Linked DNA regions of Homo sapiens. The protein of the gene in region 3 purifies or fractionates together with the protein of the main gene of each other region. This does not show direct contact. Each region holds a gene or a part of one and is shown on either strand. Other genes may lie near its edges. The genes, in order: FKBP14, CSNK1G3 and S1PR2.

Region 1 (3,750 bases), on a different chromosome or scaffold from region 3:
GGAGAGAGGATTTGAAATTGCTGGTCTAAACAGAAGGAAGAGAGGTGATATAATTAAAACTGAAAATATAGGCTGATTTTCATTGTGGTGAATCTTGTGGGAAATTGAAAACAATATTTATATTTTTAAATATCTGAATGAAATGAAAATGGAGTCCGGGCATGGTGGCTCACACCTGTAATCCCAGCACTTTGGGAGGCCAAGGCAGGCAAATCTTCTGAGGTCAGGAGTTCGAGGCCAGCCTGGCCAACTTGGTGAAACCCTGTCTCTACTAAAAATACAAAAATTAGCCAGGCATGGTGGCAGGTGCCTGTAATCCCAGCTACTAGGGAGTCTGAGGCAGGTGAATCGCTTGAACCTGGGAGTTGGAAGTTGTAGTGGGCCGAGATCGTGCCACTATACTCCAGCCTGCGTGACAGAGCAAGACTCTATTTCAAAAAAAAAAGAAAAACAAAAAAACAAATGAAAATGGAAAATTGTAGTCTAGGCACTTATCAGACCTGACTTTCTGAGATTGAAAGGTTGTGATTAGACTCAATCTAATCACATGATCATAACCAAAACCCAAAAGACCCACTACTTGCAGACATTTATTCAAGTCAAAGATGCCACTATTTAATCTAGTTTTAAGAGAAGTGTCCATGGGGTGCAGTGGCTCATGCTTCTAATCCCAGCACTTTGGGAGGCTGAGGGGTTTAGATTGCTTGAGCCCAGGAGTTCAAGACCAGCCTGGGCAACATGGTGAAACCCCATCTCTACAAAAAATATAAAAGCCAGATGTGGTAGCACATGCCTGTAAGTCCCAGGTACGTGTGAGGCTGAGGTAGGAGGATTGCTTGAGCCTGGGAGGCAGAGGTTGCAGTGAGCTGAGATGGTGCCACTGCACTCCAGCCTGGGTGACAGAGCAAGATTCTGTCTAAAAGGCCGGGCGCGGTGGCTCACGCCTGTAATCCCAGCACTTTGGGAGGCCGAGGCGGGCAGATCACGAGGTCAGGAGATCGAGACCATCCTGGCTAACACGGTGAAACGCCGTCTCTACTAAAAATACAAAAAATTAGCTGGGCGTGGTGGCGGGCGCCTGTAGTCCCAGCTACTCGGGAGGCTGAGGCAGGAGAATGGCGTGAACCCGGGAGGCGGAGCTTGCAGTGAGCCGAGATTGCGCCACTGCACTCCAGCCTGGGCAACAGAGTGAGACTCCGTCTCAAAAAAAAAAAAAAAAAGATTCTGTCTAAAAAAAGAAAAGAAATGCCTAGTATTTAGATTCAGATTAAGAACAAGTAGTATGCTCTCATTGGGTATTCTCCAATAATATAAGCCCTATATGAGGATTGTATACATGACATAAGCTTTATCTCTGCCTTTGAGCAATATATATATAGAGAGAGCTATATATATATATATATTTTTAATTTTTTAATTTTTTATTTTTTTGACAGAGTCTCACTCTGTTGCCCAGGCTGGAGGGCAGCAGCGCAATCTCGATTCACTGCAACCTCTGCCTTCCAGGTTCAAGCGATTCAACTGCCTCAGCCTCCTGAATAGCTGGGATTACAGACGCATGCCATCATGCCTGGCTAACTTTTTTTTGTATTTTTAGTGGAGATGGGCTTTCATTATGTCGGCCAGGCTGATCTCCAACTCCTGACCTCAAGCAATCTTCCCACTTGGGCCTCCCAAAGTGCTGGGATAACAGGCATGAGCCACCACACCTGGCCCTGCCTTTGAGCAATATTTTGTGTCTCCACTTTAGCAGTTTAGCAACAGTTTTTTTAAGGGAAAAAGTTTCTATTATTTTTTAATTATCATTAAAACTATGTCATAAAATGGCTGTTTAGAAGGTATTATATTTAGTTAATGAACTAAATATAATAACAGTCCATGTCTGTGATATTGATTGGCTCAATGTGGGTATCTTATGAATCCAAGTTATTAATGGGATCTGTTATTTTGTAGGTTAAAGCATATTTAAAGAAGGAGTTTGAAAAACATGGTGCGGTGGTGAATGAAAGTCATCATGATGCTTTGGTGGAGGATATTTTTGATAAAGAAGATGAAGACAAAGATGGGTTTATATCTGCCAGAGAATTTACATATAAACACGATGAGTTATAGAGATACATCTACCCTTTTAATATAGCACTCATCTTTCAAGAGAGGGCAGTCATCTTTAAAGAACATTTTATTTTTATACAATGTTCTTTCTTGCTTTGTTTTTTATTTTTATATATTTTTTCTGACTCCTATTTAAAGAACCCCTTAGGTTTCTAAGTACCCATTTCTTTCTGATAAGTTATTGGGAAGAAAAAGCTAATTGGTCTTTGAATAGAAGACTTCTGGACAATTTTTCACTTTCACAGATATGAAGCTTTGTTTTACTTTCTCACTTATAAATTTAAAATGTTGCAACTGGGAATATACCACGACATGAGACCAGGTTATAGCACAAATTAGCACCCTATATTTCTGCTTCCCTCTATTTTCTCCAAGTTAGAGGTCAACATTTGAAAAGCCTTTTGCAATAGCCCAAGGCTTGCTATTTTCATGTTATAATGAAATAGTTTATGTGTAACTGGCTCTGAGTCTCTGCTTGAGGACCAGAGGAAAATGGTTGTTGGACCTGACTTGTTAATGGCTACTGCTTTACTAAGGAGATGTGCAATGCTGAAGTTAGAAACAAGGTTAATAGCCAGGCATGGTGGCTCATGCCTGTAATCCCAGCACTTTGGGAGGCTGAGGCGGGCGGATCACCTGAGGTTGGGAGTTCGAGACCAGCCTGACCAACACGGAGAAACCCTATCTCTACTAAAAATACAAAAGTAGCCGGGCGTGGTGATGCGTGCCTGTAATCCCAGCTACCCAGGAAGGCTGAGGCGGCAGAATCACTTGAACCCGGAGGCGGAGGTTGCGGTAAGCCGAGATCACCTCCAGCCTGGACACTCTGTCTCGAAAAAAAGAAAAGAAACACGGTTAATAACATATAAATATGTATGCATTGAGACATGCTACCTAGGACTTAAGCTGATGAAGCTTGGCTCCTAGTGATTGGTGGCCTATTATGATAAATAGGACAAATCATTTATGTGTGAGTTTCTTTGTAATAAAATGTATCAATATGTTATAGATGAGGTAGAAAGTTATATTTATATTCAATATTTACTTCTTAAGGCTAGCGGAATATCCTTCCTGGTTCTTTAATGGGTAGTCTATAGTATATTATACTACAATAACATTGTATCATAAGATAAAGTAGTAAACCAGTCTACATTTTCCCATTTCTGTCTCATCAAAAACTGAAGTTAGCTGGGTGTGGTGGCTCATGCCTGTAATCCCAGCACTTTGGGGGCCAAGGAGGGTGGATCACTTGAGATCAGGAGTTCAAGACCAGCCTGGCCAACATGGTGAAACCTTGTCTCTACTAAAAATACAAAAATTAGCCAGGCGTGGTGGTGCACACCTGTAGTCCCAGCTACTCGGGAGGCTGAGACAGGAGATTTGCTTGAACCCGGGAGGCGGAGGTTGCAGTGAGCCAAGATTGTGCCACTGCACTCCAGCCTGGGTGACAGAGCAAGACTCCATCTCAAAAAAAAAAAAAGAAGCAGACCTACAGCAGCTACTATTGAATAAATACCTATCCTGGATTTTAAAAAAGAAAAAAATATATATAATTTTATTTTAAATTGGCTTTTATCTTTAATTCTTTTTTTTAAAGTTATCAAATCTTCATTTTCTAAGAGTAGCCCTTTATAGTGT
Region 2 (3,750 bases), on a different chromosome or scaffold from region 3:
TCTCCAGTTACTTCTCTGTGTCTCCTCTGATCCATCCTGTAATCCTCTCCATGCTGGGAGTAGACTTATTCTGGTATAGTTTATTGTTTCAGATGTTTTTCAGAATGGAACAAGCGGTTGTTTTGTTCCAAAGGGCTTCCCAAAAGGATGTGTCAAATTAAATAGAAGGAATGCTGAAGTATTGAATAACAAAATATAGGTCATTGAATAGTTATATTATTGTTAATAGTGAGATTTGCTGTGGATGAGATGAAATGTAAAGAATGTATATTTTCACAGAAAGTGGTTTTAATGAAGTAATTATAAAAGAATCTGTACGTGAGGAAAATTGATAGTAACAGAGGGATGATAAGATGAGAAATTTTCACAGTTCGGGATTAACGTGTGTGAGGTTTTTAAGTCATCTTAAATATTAGACGACCCTAAAATAATGTAACCCCACACTTAATCATTATCAAAGGAGTGCTTAGAAAAAAAAATCAGTTTATAAATGCAAGTAAAATCATGTTACAGGGAAAATTGTTTGAAGTTTTTTTTTCTTCTCCTAATTATTCCCCTCTTAGCTTCCCTAATTATTCCCCTCTTAGTATTCAAAAAGGACTTATAACTGAATTTGTGTTCCCTTCAACCTCCCAGTAACAACAATACCTCCTATAATTTATTAAGTGCCTACTTTGTATAGAGGCCATAAATGATACTATTACGACAACTCTGAGTTAGGTGGTGTAACCTCATTTTTGAGAGCAGGAAACAGTCTTCTAGAGTTTAAATAATGTGTTGAAGATATATCTTGGAAGTAGCAGAGTGCATATTTGAGTCAGTTTTTTTTTCTGACTTCAAAGTCTTAAGCCACCAATGATCTGTTTTTTCTTATCTTCCATCTTCATCCTTTTTTTGGTCTTTTCTCAAGCGGTTGGCAATTCGTGGTATTAATTGATAGTATGTGTCTGAGTGTTGGTTCTTTATGATGTAATTTCTTCAGAAGCGGTAGTTTTGAGGTATCTGTCTTTAATTGTGGGATCCTGTAGGTGCAGACAGTATGGTTCTGGTAATTTAAGGCACCTCAGAGCATCACCTTTTGCTGATCTGCAGGACAGAACTATGCTTGGATTCTTAATGTGTAGAAATCAAATGTGCTTTAATAATGTGAAATGATTTTCAAGGGCATCTGAACTGCTCAGGAAATATGGAATGGGAGATAAATGTAGAAATATATAACTTCTAGCGACATGGTGGAGGCTGCTGTTAGACATTTTTTCTTTTTTTTAAGCTCTCTCTGAAAGCTGAGATTTAGCAACTATAAATGTTTGGGCTTCCCTTCTATTATGAAACCTAAGGAAAGTATGTGTTTATTTGTTGTTAGACCATAGTGATTGGTTATACTCTCTCCTGCCACTTCGTGCTTATCATCTTAGTTATAAGAAATAACTCTTAACAATGAATTGAAGTGTTTATGTATTGGGGAGATAAGACACACTTTTTTGGTCGCTTTGTTTACCAATGATATATTACATAGTTGTAATTTATTGAAAATTTATGAGTAAGTTATGTCCACATGGCTAAATCATGTCCGCATTTTTCATAACTTTTCAATGGAATGAGAGATGGTCTCATGATACTCTTTTTCTTAAATACAAAGTTTAATGTTTTTTTTCTCTAGGTTAGTAATGTGAGGTTGAAGTTGTATTCAAATTTATTACATTTATTTAGATCACTTTGTGTTACCTGGAAGTACTTTCTTCAGTTGATAGCTACATTTGGAAAAAAAGGGAAGAGAGTTACCCTGTTATTCTGCCATTATATTCTTCATCAAAATGGAGGAAATTCATATGAAGTGCCAAGGACTATGTGATGCCTGCCACATAGTAGGCACTGTGTAAATCTTCTGTCCTTCATTTCAGAAGTTGCCGATAAGAATTTTAGAGGGTGGATTGGTGGGTAGACAAGCAAAGACTCTCGGGAACACCCTATTACAGGAAAATCTCTCATACCTGACCTCTGCTTAACCCACTCGTGAGATTAAATGATAGTCTTCATTCTCTCTGTAGAATTTGCTGACTGATGCTCATGCTACATTGAATGACAGTAGACTATTCTTTAGTTTTATCTTGAACTTTTATTCCCCCCAGTTACTGTAGACTTACCAAGAAACATTTGTGTTTGTACCCAACACACTGTTATGGCACTTGATGTTGTAATCACATAGTTTAATGAATTATTATTCAGTGAACTCTGAAGATAAAAAGGCGTTTGTATGAGAACCAATTGGCTACTTTGAAATCAAGTGAGTAGCCAAAATCAATTATGGTTGAAATAGATGAGGGTTAAATAATTTTAAATGATTAGGGAAAAAAAAACAAAAAACACCTAACGATCTAAAAAAATCTGCAATAATATTATTTTTCACGTTTGTAAAATGTCTTTCTGTGTTTAAGAAACAGAAACTGGAAATCACAGGTGTTGTTTTATGGGGGTAGTTTTTGCAAGAAAAAGGAAATAGAACTTTCTTCGATAGACCCACACTGGAAGAAAAGGCCATAGCTCTGTATTATAAGATTGTCTTGTGAATGGACATTTTTGTTTTAGTTGTAATAAAATGTATAGAGTTTGTAGATGTTGAGAAATGATTTCCTTTTTAGGCTAACTTCAGAACCATTTATTAATTGTAATATATTAAAGAAGTCTGCTTCTAAAACATCATCTTTCCTAGTTTACACTACTGCTTAGAGATTTATTTAATAACATCCTCTTTAAGAAAAAAAAAAAAAAAAAGGAAGATCCTGTTATTCCCAGAGGTTCATTCCTTAGAGTGAATTGTTTATCTAGTCAGGTGATCAATCTATGGTTCTCACATATTTCCCAGTATGGTCCCTAATCTGATTTCATAAGCTACCTTTCAACTTTTATGTACTGTCAGGGTTGAAGGGGTAAGCCTTCTTATAGTTCCAACATCTCCATCCAATTAGGAATGCTGGGGTAGAGGAGATTGTTCTTTGAAGGAGGAAATGTGACACCCTTGATATATACCAGGAGCACTTGAGCCTCCTATCTCACCTAGCTCAGTCCAAATGGAAAGGAGAACTTTCAGTTGAAGGAGCAGGAAGTCCAGGTTGGAGAAGGAGTGGTATATGTGGTATGCTATTTATTTTGGTGTAACCACATTGCTTGCTGAATTACAGTAGATGCTGAAATGGCACATTGAAGTATGAAGGTAGGGTGGGTGGCTCCAAGCTAGTACTTGAGAGCTCTGGTCTGCCCCTCTGTGATTTTCTTGGCTGTTTGTCTTCTGTGTGTTGGAGTCATCCTAAGGCCAGCAGCAAGATCACATCTAGACATGCACTGGCCAGAGGATGGAATGGATCTCTCTCTCTCTTTCTGTCTGTGTCTCTGGAAAAGCAAATACATCTTTTGCATAAGCCTACCAACATATTTTTCTCTTCGTATCTTATTGACCAGAATTAGGTCACATGAACGTCCTAACTAGTTATCATAAGGGAAGTAAGGTTATCATGGTTGGTTTCTACTAATCAGGAGATACCTTCTGCAATTGGTGTTGGGATCACATTTTTCTGAGTTAGATGGAAGAGGGAGGATATTTTAAAAAAATTGTGGGAAGGAAGAATTTGGGGGATATGGATGTTAGAGAGATGATAAATAGTGATCGCTGTGTCTACCTGTTTTGAAGCGATTCTCGTGCTTCAGCGTCCCAAGTAGCTGGGATTACAGGTGCATGCCACTGCACCCAGCTAA
Region 3 (3,750 bases):
CTGGGATTACAGGCGCCCGCCACCACGCCCGGCTAATTTTTTGTATTTTTAGTAAAGAAAGGGTTTTGCCATATTGGCCAGACTGGTCTCGAACTCCTGACCTCAAGTGATCCACCCACCTTGGAGTCCTAGAGTGCTGGGATTACAGGCGTGAGCCACCATGCCCAGCCAATTTTTATATTTTTTGTAGAGATGGAGTTACACCATGTTGCCCAGGCTAATCTAGAACTCCTAGGGTCAAGCAATCCACCCACCTTGGCTTCCCAAACTGTTGGGATTACAGTCGTGAGCCACCGTGCCTGGCCAGATTATGTTTATAACATATAATGTCTACATTTTCACAAATGGTACCCTCATAAAAAGCCATATTTCCCACCTGAACATAAGATCCACTGGGTTGGCCAGGCACGGTTGTTCATGCCTGTAATCCCAGCACTTTGGGAGGCCAAGGCGGGCAGATCATGAGGTCAGGAGATCGAAACCATCCTGGCCAACATGGTGAAACCTCCATCTCTACTAAAACTACAAAAATTAGCTGGGCATGGTGGCGCATGCCTGTAATCCCAGCTACTCAGGAGGCTGAGGCAGAAGAATCGCTTGAACCCGGGAGGCAGAGGTTGCAGTGAGCCGAGATAGTGCCACTACATTCCAGCCTGGCGACAGAGCTAGACTCTGTCTCAAAAAAAAAAAAAAATCCATCTGGTCAAGGAGTTTTTCCTTTTTGTTGCTGTTGTTGTTGTTCACTGCTGTGCCCAGTAGGTGCATAAAAAATATTTGTTGCCAGGTGCTGTGGTTTACATTTGTAATCCCAGCACTTGGGGAGGCCGAGGCAGGCGGATCACTTGAGGTCACGAGTTCGAGACCAGCCTGGCCAACATGGTGAAACCCTGTCTTTACTAAAAATACAAAAAAATCAGCCAGGCGTGGTGGCACGCGCCTGTATTTCCAGCTACTTGTGAAGCTGAGGCACAGGAATAGCTTGAACCTGGGAGGCAGAGGTTGCAGTGAGCTGAGATGGCACCACTGCACCCCAGCCTGGGAGATAAAGGAAGACTCTGTCTCAAACAAAAAAATTTTGTTGCTGGAATGAGGGGCTTTCCTATCCTGTTGTCGAACTGCTGGTTACACACACACACACACACACACACACACACACACACACACACATCATTCGATGAAGGTGTAGTGTCCATCATTTCCGCAGGCAGGCACACAGAAATGCCCAGGAATTAGTGAAAATTGGAAATCTGGATAGAAGACTGGGCCCGACGCTGGAAGGCAGGCACAAACTGGGCCCCGCCAGAGGGGACAGTGATCTACAGAGGCAGGAAAGAGTGTGGAGTGTCCCCAGTCCCCCAAGGGAAACAGGGCAGCACCTGAATTCTGGAGGTCCTATCAAGGGAGAGACTGGTCAGGCACAGTGGCTCACGCCTGTCATTCCAGCACTTTGGGAGGCTGAGGCAGTAGGATTGCTTGAATGCAGCAGTTCAAGACCAGCCTGGGCAACACAGCGAGACCCCATCTCTACAAAAAACTGCAAAAAATTAGCCAGGCATGATGGCGCACCTGTAGTCCCAGCTACTCTGGAGGCTGAGGCAGGAGGCTGAGGCTCCCGTGAGCTATGATTGAGCCACCACACTCTGGCCTGGATGACAGAGCAAGACCATGTCTCAAAAAAAGAAAAAAAAAAAGAGATCAATTTTGTCTTTGGGACAGGACATCGCACTTAGTAGGAATTTATTTGTTGGGTGGACACACAGTAGGCACTTAATGCCTATTTGCTGCGTTGACACCTAGTAGGTACTTCCAAGGCTCTTTGTTGAGTCAATAAATGTGACCTCGTGTTTTCTTCCAAGTCCAGGGTCCCAGGGGTAAGCCCAGAGGTAACCTGGGGTTGAAGACAGTTGTTTCAGGTTGAGGCCACCTGGCCAGGAGTACTGTGACGTCACCAGGCTGCGTGACGTTTCGCGCCGGCCGGTTCTCACGGGTGGGGGCTGGGAGGGGCAGAGTGAGAGATCGGGTGGGGGGGGCGGACAAAGGGCCCTCCGTGCAGCTCCTGTCGGCCCCCGCGTGCGCCCCGGCCAGCCGGCCGGTCACATCTGGAATTCATTGCAGCCGCCGCCGGAAAGGGGAGGAGAGGAGGGCGGGGCGAGCGGGGGGCAGAGGCGGCGGCTCTCCGCCCCCCCCTCTGTCCCTCGTCCCAGCCCCGGGACTTAGCCGAGCCCGGCTGGCAACCCCAGCCCCAGCCGCGGCCGCCCTGGGGACGCAGACGCCAAGGCCCCTCCGGCCAGGGCCGGGAGCCGGGCCGGCCTAGCCAGGTGAGCGCGCGTGGCGACAAGGAGGCAGAAAAGGCGGGCCTGGTCCCCTGAGGTCTCGGGATCCGAGCTGAGGGGCCCCAATCGGGGGGCTGGGGCGCGCACGCGCCGCCTGGGTTCCTGCTGCACGGAGCGGGTGGTCACAGTGCGCCCTCTCCAAGAATCCGGGCGGCCCCCACTGCCTCGGCCGCGAACCCGCAGACTGTGCTCCCCGCCTTTCTCAGCGGCAGGAAGTTGGCGCCGGGGAGAAGGCTGAATCCGAGCGCTTTCGACTGGAGTCTTTGGGAGGCAGGACGCCGTGCTCGGGGACCGGGGTCTTGGGGAGTGTGTTTGGGGGGGGGCAACACCCCTCCTGGCTGACTCCGGCTGAGCGAGGGCAAAAGGATGTGCGCGCCGTGGAGCCTCCAAGCCAAGGGGCGGCACCCACGGGGAGGGCGGTCGGACGTCGGGCTTTCTGCCTCGGTTTCCCCAAGTTGTTTGCCTCCTCCGGTCCCCCGGCGGGGGGCGTGGCTTTGTTTTGTAAGGAAAGAGAAAGTGACTGCGTGGCTCAGACGCCTCCTCTTTCAACTCCGGCTCAGGGATGGGTCGTGGGTGAAGGCGCGCGTGGCGCGGACCTCGCGTGGCCCCGAGCCGGGCGGAGCGTCGGAACTCGCCCCCTTCTCAGGCACGGGTTGACTCACCCGGGGATTTCCACCCCCTCCTCTGTCTCTGTCCTTGTCAGATGCTCCGGGCCCCACGCGCTGAGCCCACAGTCCCCCTCGTGGGGCGACACGGCCAGGCGCGGAACTCGCGGTGCAGCTGCTGCTGCGATCTGGTCCCCCACCCCCAGTCTTCCCAGAATCTCGAGGCGGGACCCCTGGCGGGACGGAGAGGAATCCTTCCAGTGCCGCTTGGAGACGTGGGGGCCCCGCGCGTGTGGCGGTCTCGGGGGCGGGGGGGAGAGGAGGCGTGGCTCCCGCGCGAGCGAGCGTGGATACCGCGCATTCCTAAACCAGATAAGGAGGCCGAGAGTGCGGGCCAGCACGGGGTCGGGTCCTGCTGCCATCTCCATGGAGACACGCTGGGCTTTGCCTGGTTGATGGTGGGCGATGGGGGCGCTGCCCGCGGACCAGAGGTGTCTCCAGGCTCCTTTGTTGCTGTTTGGGTCTGGGCTGAGCTTAGGAGTTTCCACCCTTGGGAACCCACTAGGGTCTCCTTTGTTCATTGGTTCATTCATTCATTCATTCATTTGCCCATTCCACACGTTTTCTGAGTGTTTTATTTGTGCCAGGCATCCCTGTAGGGGCTGATAACTGACTTGCTCCCTGGCCTTAGGCATTGACTGTCTAGGTGGAAGCCAGACAGAAAAGGAAAGATATCATGATAGTTTCCCATAGTGGCAAGCGCTGTGCAGATAATAAAACGAGATTCTGTGATTAGAAAAGGCTTGGAGATG

What was found.
Region 1: the proteins of S1PR2 (region 3) and FKBP14 purify together in Homo sapiens (affinity purification with mass spectrometry; 2 studies listed by BioGRID and IntAct, with this or other methods). This does not show direct contact.
Region 2: the proteins of S1PR2 (region 3) and CSNK1G3 purify together in Homo sapiens (affinity purification with mass spectrometry; 2 studies listed by BioGRID and IntAct, with this or other methods). This does not show direct contact.

What each region holds. Positions count from the first base shown.
Region 1 is NC_000007.14:30,013,097-30,016,846, reverse strand, and holds part of FKBP14 (peptidyl-prolyl cis-trans isomerase FKBP14 precursor), read left to right. Parts: intron 1-1,953; coding exon 1,954-2,112; 3' UTR 2,113-3,750. UniProt on the Homo sapiens protein: PPIase which accelerates the folding of proteins during protein synthesis. Has a preference for substrates containing 4-hydroxylproline modifications, including type III collagen. May also target type VI and type X collagens.
Region 2 is NC_000005.10:123,515,177-123,518,926, forward strand, and holds part of CSNK1G3 (casein kinase I isoform gamma-3), read left to right. Parts: intron 1-3,750. UniProt on the Homo sapiens protein: Serine/threonine-protein kinase. Casein kinases are operationally defined by their preferential utilization of acidic proteins such as caseins as substrates. It can phosphorylate a large number of proteins. Participates in Wnt signaling.
Region 3 is NC_000019.10:10,229,772-10,233,521, reverse strand, and holds the start of S1PR2 (sphingosine 1-phosphate receptor 2), read left to right. Parts: upstream 1-2,190; 5' UTR 2,191-2,318; intron 2,319-3,036; exon of another isoform or gene 3,037-3,109; intron 3,110-3,750. UniProt on the Homo sapiens protein: Receptor for the lysosphingolipid sphingosine 1-phosphate (S1P). S1P is a bioactive lysophospholipid that elicits diverse physiological effects on most types of cells and tissues.